3 separate regions of the Homo sapiens genome follow, and all the other regions are reported to be linked to region 2. Evidence: microRNA targets listed by miRTarBase, many of them from high-throughput screens and not tested one by one. Region 2 holds a microRNA gene; each other region holds the end of a gene's coding sequence.
The links. The annotated mature microRNA hsa-miR-3655 reads GCUUGUCGCUGCGGUGUUGCU and lies in region 2 at 1,500-1,520, shown strand. An mRNA with a match to its seed (bases 2 to 7 or 8) in the 3' UTR can be bound and repressed. Matches are read on the target gene's strand: a 7mer-m8 pairs with bases 2 to 8, a 7mer-A1 pairs with bases 2 to 7 and ends in A, and an 8mer does both.

Region 1: miRTarBase lists WDR37 as a target of hsa-miR-3655. Seed matches in the 3' UTR shown: 7mer-A1 at 2,787-2,793.
Region 3: miRTarBase lists ATP5F1C as a target of hsa-miR-3655. Seed matches in the 3' UTR shown: 7mer-A1 at 394-400.

Annotation. Positions count from the first base shown.
Region 1 is chr10:1,128,882-1,132,137 of GRCh38, forward strand. WDR37 (WD repeat domain 37) reads left to right here. Exons shown (of 14, transcript NM_014023.4): 14 at 332-3,256. The coding sequence ends at 463. Among named protein-coding and RNA genes, the nearest start is that of LINC00200, 29 kb to the right of the region's middle.
Region 2 is chr5:140,646,345-140,649,600 of GRCh38, forward strand. MIR3655 (microRNA 3655) reads left to right here and starts at 1,500; the gene lies at 1,500-1,582. It overlaps NDUFA2 (NADH:ubiquinone oxidoreductase subunit A2), which reads right to left and starts at 1,286. Exons shown (of 3, transcript NM_002488.5): 1 at 1,139-1,286; 2 at 912-1,018. The coding sequence starts at 1,239. IK (IK cytokine) reads left to right here and starts at 1,485. Exons shown (of 20, transcript NM_006083.4): 1 at 1,485-1,580; 2 at 2,127-2,193. The coding sequence starts at 1,565. It also overlaps a transcript of TMCO6 not described here. RefSeq lists enhancers at 864-1,283, 1,024-1,559.
Region 3 is chr10:7,806,610-7,809,865 of GRCh38, forward strand. ATP5F1C (ATP synthase F1 subunit gamma) reads left to right here. Exons shown (of 10, transcript NM_001001973.3): 9 at 365-401; 10 at 1,050-1,192. The coding sequence ends at 371. LOC105376392 (a long non-coding RNA gene) reads right to left here. Exons shown (of 3, transcript XR_001747356.1): 2 at 1,855-1,933. Among named protein-coding and RNA genes, the nearest start is that of TAF3, 10 kb to the right of the region's middle.

The sequences.
Region 1 (3,256 bases), not on the chromosome of region 2:
GTCCTGCTCAGTGGTCCATGCTTGGTGGTCCATGCTCTATGGTCCATGGGGTGCTCGGTGGTCCGTGCTCGGCGGTGGTTGGTGCTCGGCAGTCCATGATCTGTGGCCCATGCACGGTGGTCCATGATCTGTGGCCCATGCACGGTGGTCCATGATCTGTGGTCCATGCTTGGTGGTCCGTGCTCGGTGGTCCATGGGACTGATCCTGCACACCATGTTGTTTTCCTATAACTTACGTACTTTGAGTGATGTGGTTATTCATTTCGCTGAGGTCTTATAATCTTACTTTCGGGAATAATGCACTGATTTTGGTTTGTTTGATCATCACTAGGGCCACAGGAGAATGGTATGCTGCTCGGCATGGAGTGAAGACCACCCCGTGTGCAATCTGTTCACCTGTGGGTTTGACCGGCAAGCCATTGGTTGGAACATCAACATCCCTGCATTGCTACAAGAAAAATAAGGACACCGGCAGCCCTTAGTTTCACTGTTTGCCAGCACAGACCTTTGATGGGTGCAGGCTTTTCTGCGTATTAATCAGCCATTTTTGTGAGAGTTTGACCCTGGAAAGGGTGCTTTGTATATGTTCTTTTCACATAGTGCCCAGCTTGCATGAAATGTACAGAGAAATGTGTGGTCGTATTTTTTACTTTTGTCTTGTATATGTATGTATATTGGGTCCTCTGGGCAGTAGAGGCAAAGCTCACCTCCCATGTAGCACATGAAATGCTTGTGAGTTGTTGACATTGGACAGGTGAACAGTAGGGCATTACATTTGTGTGAATTAAATGTGAACTTCTGTATTACGTTGCGGCGTCGGCAGTCCTGCGTTCCCTGGAGTAACTGTACGTATCTGCCTTTGCTGGGAAGACTGTGGGGCTGCCTGTGTTGGCTGGCGACCAGCAGGATTGCTCCAGGATTTTGTGTTTACCTCGCGTGAAGTTCAGCACGTGCTGTCGTGTAGTCAGCTTCTACTCTAATTTCTGTTACAGTTCTGCAAAGGTAACCTGGAGTTTAGAAGTTAAAAAAAAGCATGGGATGTTGGATTTGCACCATTTGGAGTTTCTTTAGGAAAGAAAAGTTTTCTGCTTTTTTATAGAAAATCATTTCAGTCTCCCGAGGTCTCATGCTAGCAAATTTTGAAATAGGATTCTAATCACTGATTTCAAATATTAAGCAAAATGTAAAGCACTTTAATTTATAGCTATGGTTATAAACAGGTTTTAGATGTTTCAAATGACTTGTCCACTGAATGTCACTTGACCTTGATAAGAGGCCGCCTGCACACAGAGCCCAGTTAATTCTCCGCACCTCGGTTGTGTGCTTCCGAATGGGCTCACTCCCGTGGTGGTGTTTGAGAGCCAACAACACTACCTCAGAGACGGGTCTTTGGGAAACTTTGGGTCTCACTGTTGCCTGGCTGGAGCACTTTGGTTTATAGCTGGAATACTGAGTTCAGTTCAGAAGGCAGGAAAGACAGTCACACCGACGTGTCCTGAAGGTGTAGGCTCTCCACTTAGGCGCACAAGCTGACGGCTGCAGCCAGCAGGCCCCGGTGACGAGACACTTCCAGGTCTTGTGGTGGGGACGCCTCTCAGTGCCAGTCCCGCCACTGCTGAGTGAGCCTGGTGTTCTTGCCTTCTTGGAAATTACTGCTCACCTGGTATCTGTACGTTAATGTTTCTTGCTGAGTTACAGTTTTGATAAAGAGGCTCTCATTTCCTGTGTCTTGTATATTCAGTCCTTTCAATACGTCCACCTGGAGGCTCACCACTTGGAGAGACACAGGAAGGTAATATTTACAGCTGTCATGTGACATCCCCAGGTCTTTGTGTTTTGCCCTGTTTTACGGTGAGGTAGGAGGGAACCCATCTGGGGACCGGTAGGTGCAGGTGCAGTAGGACGTGGGACTTTTGGACCCGTCCTTTGGTGCAGCTCGCCAGGGATGAGAGGCACCTCCCTACTTGGGTCTTCAGGAGCTGGTCCAAGGAGCTTCGAATCTAAGTCATCTAGAATGACCCTGAAATGACTGACAGCCCCGGGCCCAAGAAAAACCCATAACCACCTCAGATGGATCTGACGTGGCTAAGGGACAAACAGCAAATATTTCAGTCATTTTGATTTTACAAATAAAAAATGTGTTGTGTTTTTGTCCGACATTATTTCCTGACTGCACTGTTCTGAGAATGGAGTCCACCTGGTCCCTCTGGTTGATTAGAATCTCAGGTTTCAGCTCCTGCTGTCCTGAGCGAACTTGCCTGATGCAGGGCTGTGCTGTGTCCAGATGTTGCTGGGGCCTCACTTTTTCTCTTGGCTGGAGGTCCAATTGCCAGAGCCTCCCACACTGCACATACAAAGGTCTGAGCCCAGGGCAGCTTCTGGGGCCACTGCACAGGCCACCTGCTTGGGTTCCTCGGAGTTTAATTTGAAAGTCTGGGTGTCTTAGGATGATGGTTAGGAACATTGAAAAATGGCTGCAAATAGCCAAATCAAACTTAAGAACCAGATCTCTGCCAGATTAAACATTTTTGAAGCTTTTAAAAGTCAATATTCCTAGTGGCCACTGAGTTCCAGGCACACTGGTGCCCTTTACTGCCACAGCTGCTCACCTTGTCTGGCAAACTGGAGGGACCTCAGAAACTGGACTCCTGCATGTCCTTGGGGGCGCAGCCCTGTGGTGCTCAGGCAGAGCTCTCAGGAGCCGGGGCACCTTGCTGTTCGCTGCTGTGTCGTCTTCTAATGTGAGCTCATCCACTGCTGCTGCAGCGTGGTGATCAGGAGTCACAGACAAGATCGGGGATGGTGTGTGTGTGTGTGTGTGTGTGTGTGTGCACGTGTGTGTGGCTAAATTAAGTCATACTGTCAACCACACGTGATCTCGTCTGAAACAGTGTTTGGAAGTGGGAACAGTTTTGTCCTGTATGCTGATGTGTCCAGAATTTCATTTAATGATAGACGGAAAATGTGTGGTTACTGAAAACTGTATATGATACAGAATTTCATAAGAGCCATGCTGTTGGGCAAAGCAACTCTTTTTCAACCACTGCTCATCAGTTTCTGTAGAGACAAAAACTCTGTACATATTTTGGAATCTGAAGAATCCTATGTAAATCATTTGTTACTTAAGTCTGTGAAAAACATATTTCTTTGGAGGAAAATGTATGCATTTATAAGTGTTCCATGGAATCAGTTTTTATTGTATCGATATAATTGTCTCTAAGTGTTGACTGTCTTCATTGCAATATGAAATTCATTA
Region 2 (3,256 bases):
AACATAATACCCAGCACAATACACTAAAGTTACTCGTGTCTATCTCCTCCTGTAGTCTACTGGCTTTTGGAAGGAGAAGCTTTTTTCCTTCTCCAATTATTAGTGCATGTCTAATGTCTACTGTGTCTCACAGATATCTACTCTGAGAACCAATCTGCTTAAGGTGGTCACTCTCCTCCACCTCCTCCCGTCATTCCCAGGGCACCATATAGTTAAAAGCTGTGATTAAAATCCTGTTATTCAGTATGTATAAACATTTATTGCATACCTACAATGTGTTAGGCAACATGATAGGAAAATTTCATTTTGCAATACATTGCCATGCCAGTCTTAGAGGGGTAAGTGCATTCTAGGAAGGGGAATAAATGTAAAGGCTCAATCCTGTTAAACTCTAGCTGCATCTAAAGTTGCAGCTAGAGTTTAACAATAGTGCAAAACAAAGTTTTGATTCCGTTTTCTAATCTCTACAGTGAGAAAAGAAGAACACGCTTCCTCCTAACTAATGAAGATTAAATGAGTTAGGCAGGGAAGCACTCAGCACAGGGCCCAGCTCTATGTGCAAAATTACTGAGATTCTCACACACTACCTGGACTGACACTGGCTACACGTTATTTGGAGAAACTATATTGACTAACTTCTCTCCTGTCTGAAGCCCATTCTTAACTACAAAAACGTCAGCTCCTGGTCCCTACGCAGGATTCGGTCAGCCTGCATACTTATGTTGCCCGGAATACAACGCATCATATAACCCTGCGAATATAAATTTCTTCATGGAAACAAGATCAACAGCAAGGCTAAAGTCCGAGTTCTAGTTTCTCCACGGGTTTCTGCACGACCTTGGGCGGTCCCTTCTCTTCTCAAACCCTTGTTCCCCTACCGGAGCCCCAGACCCCTGGCGTCCCGCACTCACCGTAGCGGGCCCAGAGCTTGGGCTGCACATCGGAGCATTCGCGGATTAGGATGGGTAGGTCGGGATTCGCCTTCTTCAGCTCCACGTAGCGTTTCTCAATGAAGTCCCTGCGGGGCCGGAGAGAGCGCCGCGCGTGCTGTGGGCGGGGGCTTCCCTCAACTTCAGGGAGGTCGAGGTCGTGACCCTGGCGTCCCGAAGCCCGCCCGCCTCACCACGCCGCGCCTCACCTGACGCCCTGGCTGCCGGGCGAGCGCTGACATAAGTGGATGCGAATCTCACGCAGGCCCAGCTTTGCCCCGACTCCTCGACTTGCTGCGGCCGCCGCCATCCTTGTTAATATCGAAGTCGCCAATTCCAGGTCTTCAGGCCAAGTGCTCCGGTCTGACCAACCGCGGACCCTAAAGCCTAGCCCATAGGCTGCATGAGGCAGGGGCGGGGTAAAGCTTGGCCAATGATATAAAAGTATTGTAGGACCGCTGCGAGGTCAATTTCTTTGCGCTCGGGGTTGGTCGGAGGGAAAAACAGGAAGCGGAAAGGCTGCGAACGCAAAGCAGTGTGGGTTGATTCTGAGGTGCACTGTGGGAAAGAGCTTGTCGCTGCGGTGTTGCTGTTGGAGACTCGATTGTTGGTGACAGCGAAAGAACGATAACAAAATGCCGGAGCGAGATAGTAAGGCTCAGGCCATCCGTTATTTCTTCCCCATGGCACTTGGGGCACTTGGCGCATTATTGTAGCTTCTGAGCTTAAGCCGGGTGTGTGTGTGTGTGTGTGTGTGTGTGTGTGTGTGTGTATGTATGTATGTGTGACGCTTGAGCCCGGAGAAGCCACAGGGTCCTAAGTGAGGCCGACAGCTCCAAACTCCGTCCCCAGTCCTCACTCCTACTCCAAGTGATGATGGGCGGCTTTTGTGCGTGGATCGCTTTCCCCCAGTCCTGTCCCCATACTTAATCCTGGGTTGCGCGTATTTATCTTTTACGTAGTATTTTAGACGTGATCTTCCGGAAGTCTTCTCTGATCCTCCAGCGCAGGATTAGGGTCCTCTGCTTTGTGCTCCCACAGCTTCTTGTAGTTTCCTATTTCAGCACTTATTACATTGTGTTGACACTGTCGCTGTTCTAACTTTTGTTCTGTATTGTTCACTACTATATCTCAAATTTTTGCATAGGATCTGACACGTAAGAGACTGATTAAATTAACGTCAATTTTTTTTGTCAGGTGAGCCGTTCTCCAACCCTTTGGCCCCCGATGGCCACGATGTGGATGATCCTCACTCCTTCCACCAGTGAGTATTTTGTGCTAGGACCATGGAAATGAGTTGGGCAATGAATAGAAAAGTGGTGGTGATGGTGAAAGAATTCTGAATGTCTTGTCATCAAGGATGGTAAAAAATTATACCCGCTGGCCCTTTATCTCTGTGAGCCTTAACTGGATCAGGCCAAGTGCATAAGGGTATTAGAAGGGAAATTCCTGCAGGAAAGGTGTTAAGTTTTTTTTTTTTTTTATACGTGTTGTGTAATTACACATTATATAGGAATTACTTCTTCCAATAGCAAATTAAAACATAGGAAATAAGGGTAAAATCATCTTTTTATTTTTTTTGAGACTGAGTTTCGCTCTTGTTGCTCAGGCTGGAATGCAGTGGTGCGATCTCGGCTCACCACAACCTCCGCCTCCCGGGTTCAAGCAATTCTCCTGCCTCAGCCTTCCGAGTAGCTGGGATTACAGGCATGTTCCACTACGCCCGGCTAATTTTGTATTTTTAGTAGAGATGGGGTTTCTCCATGTTGATCAGGCTGGTCTTGAAATCCCGACTTCAGGTGATCCACCCGCCTCTGCCTCCCAAAGTGGTGGGAGTACAGGCGTGAGCCACCGTGCCTGGCCCCCGATAAAATCATCTTTGATAACATCCCCAATTCCAGTCCATTTCTTTTTTTTTTTCTTTTCTTTTCTTTTCTTTCTTTTTTTTTTTTTTTGAGACGGAGTCTCACTGTTACCCAGGCTGGAGTGCAGTGATGCAATCTTGGCTCACTGCAACCTCTGCCTCCTGAGTTCAAGCGGTTCTCCTGCCTCAGCCTCCCAAGTAGCTGGGACTACAGGCATGTGCCACCATGCACGACTGATTTTTTTTTTTGTATTTTTAGTAGAGACAGGGTTTCACTGTGTTCGTCAGGCTGGTCTTGAACTCCTGGCCTGAAGTGATCCACCCGCCTCAGCCTCCTAAAGTGCTGGCATTACAGGCGTGAGCCACCGTGCCCAGCCTCAGTCCTTTTCTTAGAAGTAACCACAGTTACCTTTTTTGGCATATCTTTTCCTCCCGTTGCCCAGGCTGGAGTTCAATGGCATTA
Region 3 (3,256 bases), not on the chromosome of region 2:
CGCCACTGCACTCCAGCCTGGGCAACAGAACAAGACTCCATCTCCAAAAAAAAAAAAAACCTCTAAATATATTGTGTTAATTTATAGAAAAATTGTAATTTAAATTACATATTCATAGTCTTGCCTACTTGCATGAGCATGTTTTTATTGCTTCTAACCTGGATTGAAATCTATGACTTTTTATAACAGTCATTGAGTCTGTTTCAAAGGAATCTTGTGGTAAGTATTTTTGCATGATGTACTCAAGGTATCAAGTTTAACAATTGACTTTTTTTCATTGGAAAGCATATGTGATTAACTAGCATGGATTGCTTCTTGACCTGCTTGTTTTGTGTTTGTCTTTTTCTTCTAATATAATAACCAGGGATTAATGAAAATCAAGTTCCATCCTCAGACAAGAGGTAAAGTTCACACATTCTTCCCATGTCTGTTCAGAAAAGAAACCTATTCAGATATAAGTTAAGCTAATTTAGTAATCCTAGAATTGTCCTCTGAGAGATTTAGATGGATGGGCCACTTCACAGTAGCAGCCAACTCACGGGAGCACCTGGGCAACGCTAGTGGACTTTTTTGTAGTGAGTGTGTTGATCATAGAAAATGTAGATATAAGGAAATAAACTTTGAGGATAGAGAATTAACATTATTTTGAGATATTATATATAGGTTGTGAAGAGTGGTGGTTGTCACACTTTATGGTCTCTGGACCCCTTAATGTCTGATTCATGTAGCAGAAGCCAGCTAGATTTTCATCTGTCTCTATTCATTTTGTTGTGATGTCATGGATCATGTGGCCTCTGGAAAACTCTACTGTATACTCGAGAATGAGAATATAACAGGCAAAATAACATTATCATGAAAATAGTTTTGACCTCATGAACCCCATGAAAGGTTCCCCAGACCAAAATTTTAGAATCACTGGTATAGGGTAACACTTTATTGTGTAAATTCAGTTCTCTGTACCCCACTTAAATATGTATTATTATCTCTTGACATTATTTTCCCAAAAAATGCTGTTTGATTTCTTACTTGTTCTGTACTTTGTTTTTCAGGTAAAGAAGGAAAATTCAGCCAGTTGATTTTGTTTTTAGCTTACTGCTGCCTTTGTCCGAAGAAACTGTTCCTCCATTATTTGAATTACTGAAGACAGCAAGATATTTGTAAATTATCTTAAAATAAACAACTTAAAATAAAATCATTGTTTTTCTTATATATAAGAACAATAGATATAGTTTTTGAAATGAGATGATACTAAAACATTTAAAAATATTAATATGCTACTATTAAAATTTTTTAGTAGAAGACAATTTAAGAGGCTCTTTTGATTTGGTAGTGCTCCACTGACCTTAAAATGTCTAGCCTCTATGGGGACAACGTAGAGGGAAAGGGCTGCAGCCACAGCCTCAGCCCAGTTCTGTGCCTTATTACAGCCTTAAAGAACAGTCAACAAGACCAGGCACGGTGGCTCATGCCTGCAGTCCTAACACTTTGGGAGACTGAGACTCAAGGTGGATCACTGGAGGTCAGGAATTTGAGACTAGCCTGGCCAACATGGTGAAACCCTGTTTCTACTAAAAACAAAACAAAATACAAAAATGGTGCACACTTGTAATCCCAGCTACTCAGGAGGCTGAGGCAGGAGAATCGGTTAAACCTGGGAGGCAGAGGTTGCAGTGAGCTGAGATCGCGCCACTGTACTCCAGCCTGGGCAACAGAGTAAGACTCTGTTCCAAAAAAAAAAAAAAAATGCCACAGGAAGCATTTGCTTGGAATTCTGGATACAAAATTGCAAGCATATACTTACTCTAAATTATTTAAAACATCTTTTCTAAACACTGAGAAAAGTACGATACTCACATTTAGATCACAATTAAGATTAGATGCCTGCGTTGACTCCACACTCTGAGTTGGCCATGCCAAAATTTCAGGCTTTTCCCTATTTGTTTAAAATTGATAACTTAGTTTTTTGGGTTTTTTTTAATTACAAAAGTAATATATAAATTCCAAAATACATAAAATTATAAACAATATAAAACCCATTCTTAACAAGCTCCTCTTTTAAAAACAAATGAATGCATGTATTTAGAATGGATTCTTTAAATATTTACAGCTATATTCGTGGTAATGAATAAAAAGGTTCAGTGAACTGACCAGAGCTTCAAAGTCATTTTCTAACTCCCCTCAAAGTTTTCAGGAGCCACTTCTGAAGGGGTTGGTGGCTGAGACTAGGAGAAAGAAACAGCTCACAACTGAGGAATCAGATGGAGGTGTAGTGTGAACCAGTACAAGATACCTTTTGGGAATGTTAGCAACGAACCACGTGCCTCTGGAGGCTGTGTGTATGTGTGTGTGTGTGTGTGCACGCCACTATACCTGGCTAATTTAAAAAAAAATTTTTTTTTTAGAGATGGGGTCTTGCTATTTTGCCCAGTCTGGTCTTGAACTCCTGGGCTCAAGTGATCCTCCTTAGCCCTGCAAAGTGCTGGAATTACAGGTGTGAGCCACCATGCCCATCCTGTTTTGTATTTTGCTTCTAAGCTTGGCTTGACCCACCTCCAGTTTCTAGGAGAGCAGAACACATTTGTGAGGGTGATTTGAGTGTCCTAGACATCATGGAAGGAGGAAAAGCAGGAATTTGAAATCAGTCAACATAAGTAAGAATAATCTGTGTCTGAACTGGAATACTAGCTCAGCCCTTAACAGCTGTGACCTTGGGCAAGTTACTTAATCTTTCAGTTTTATGATCTATAAGATGGAGATTAAAAGATTGTTAGGATTAAATGAGCTAATATTTTAAAATATCGAGAATCTGACAGGGAGTAAGTGCTATATTCTTGGTTAAATGTCTGCTCTATGTAAAATTAATCATCAGCTCCCTGTAGCCTTTAGTGGTGCTCTTCTGTGTACTGGCACTCTGACTCTCTGAGGATACAATAACAAAACGCCTCCTTGCAGGAGCTTACAGTCTGGAGGGAACACAAGCAAATGACAGAATGTGGTAAGTTACAATTGGTGAGCCACAAGAGGGACAGTGACTCAATTTGGGGACAGATGAAGGGGACTGAGAAGGCCGTCCAGCTTGGAGGAAGGGAGGTCTAAACAGTCCTCAAGGACCAGTGACCAACAGTAGAAATTAAACTACTAGAGCTAACTGGTGGGGAGGGAAGGCATTTCAGGCCAAGGAAGCAGAAAAAGCAAAGACCAAAATCTGTTCAAATGCACATTCTGAAAACTGCTAATACAGAGAACGAGAAAGGCA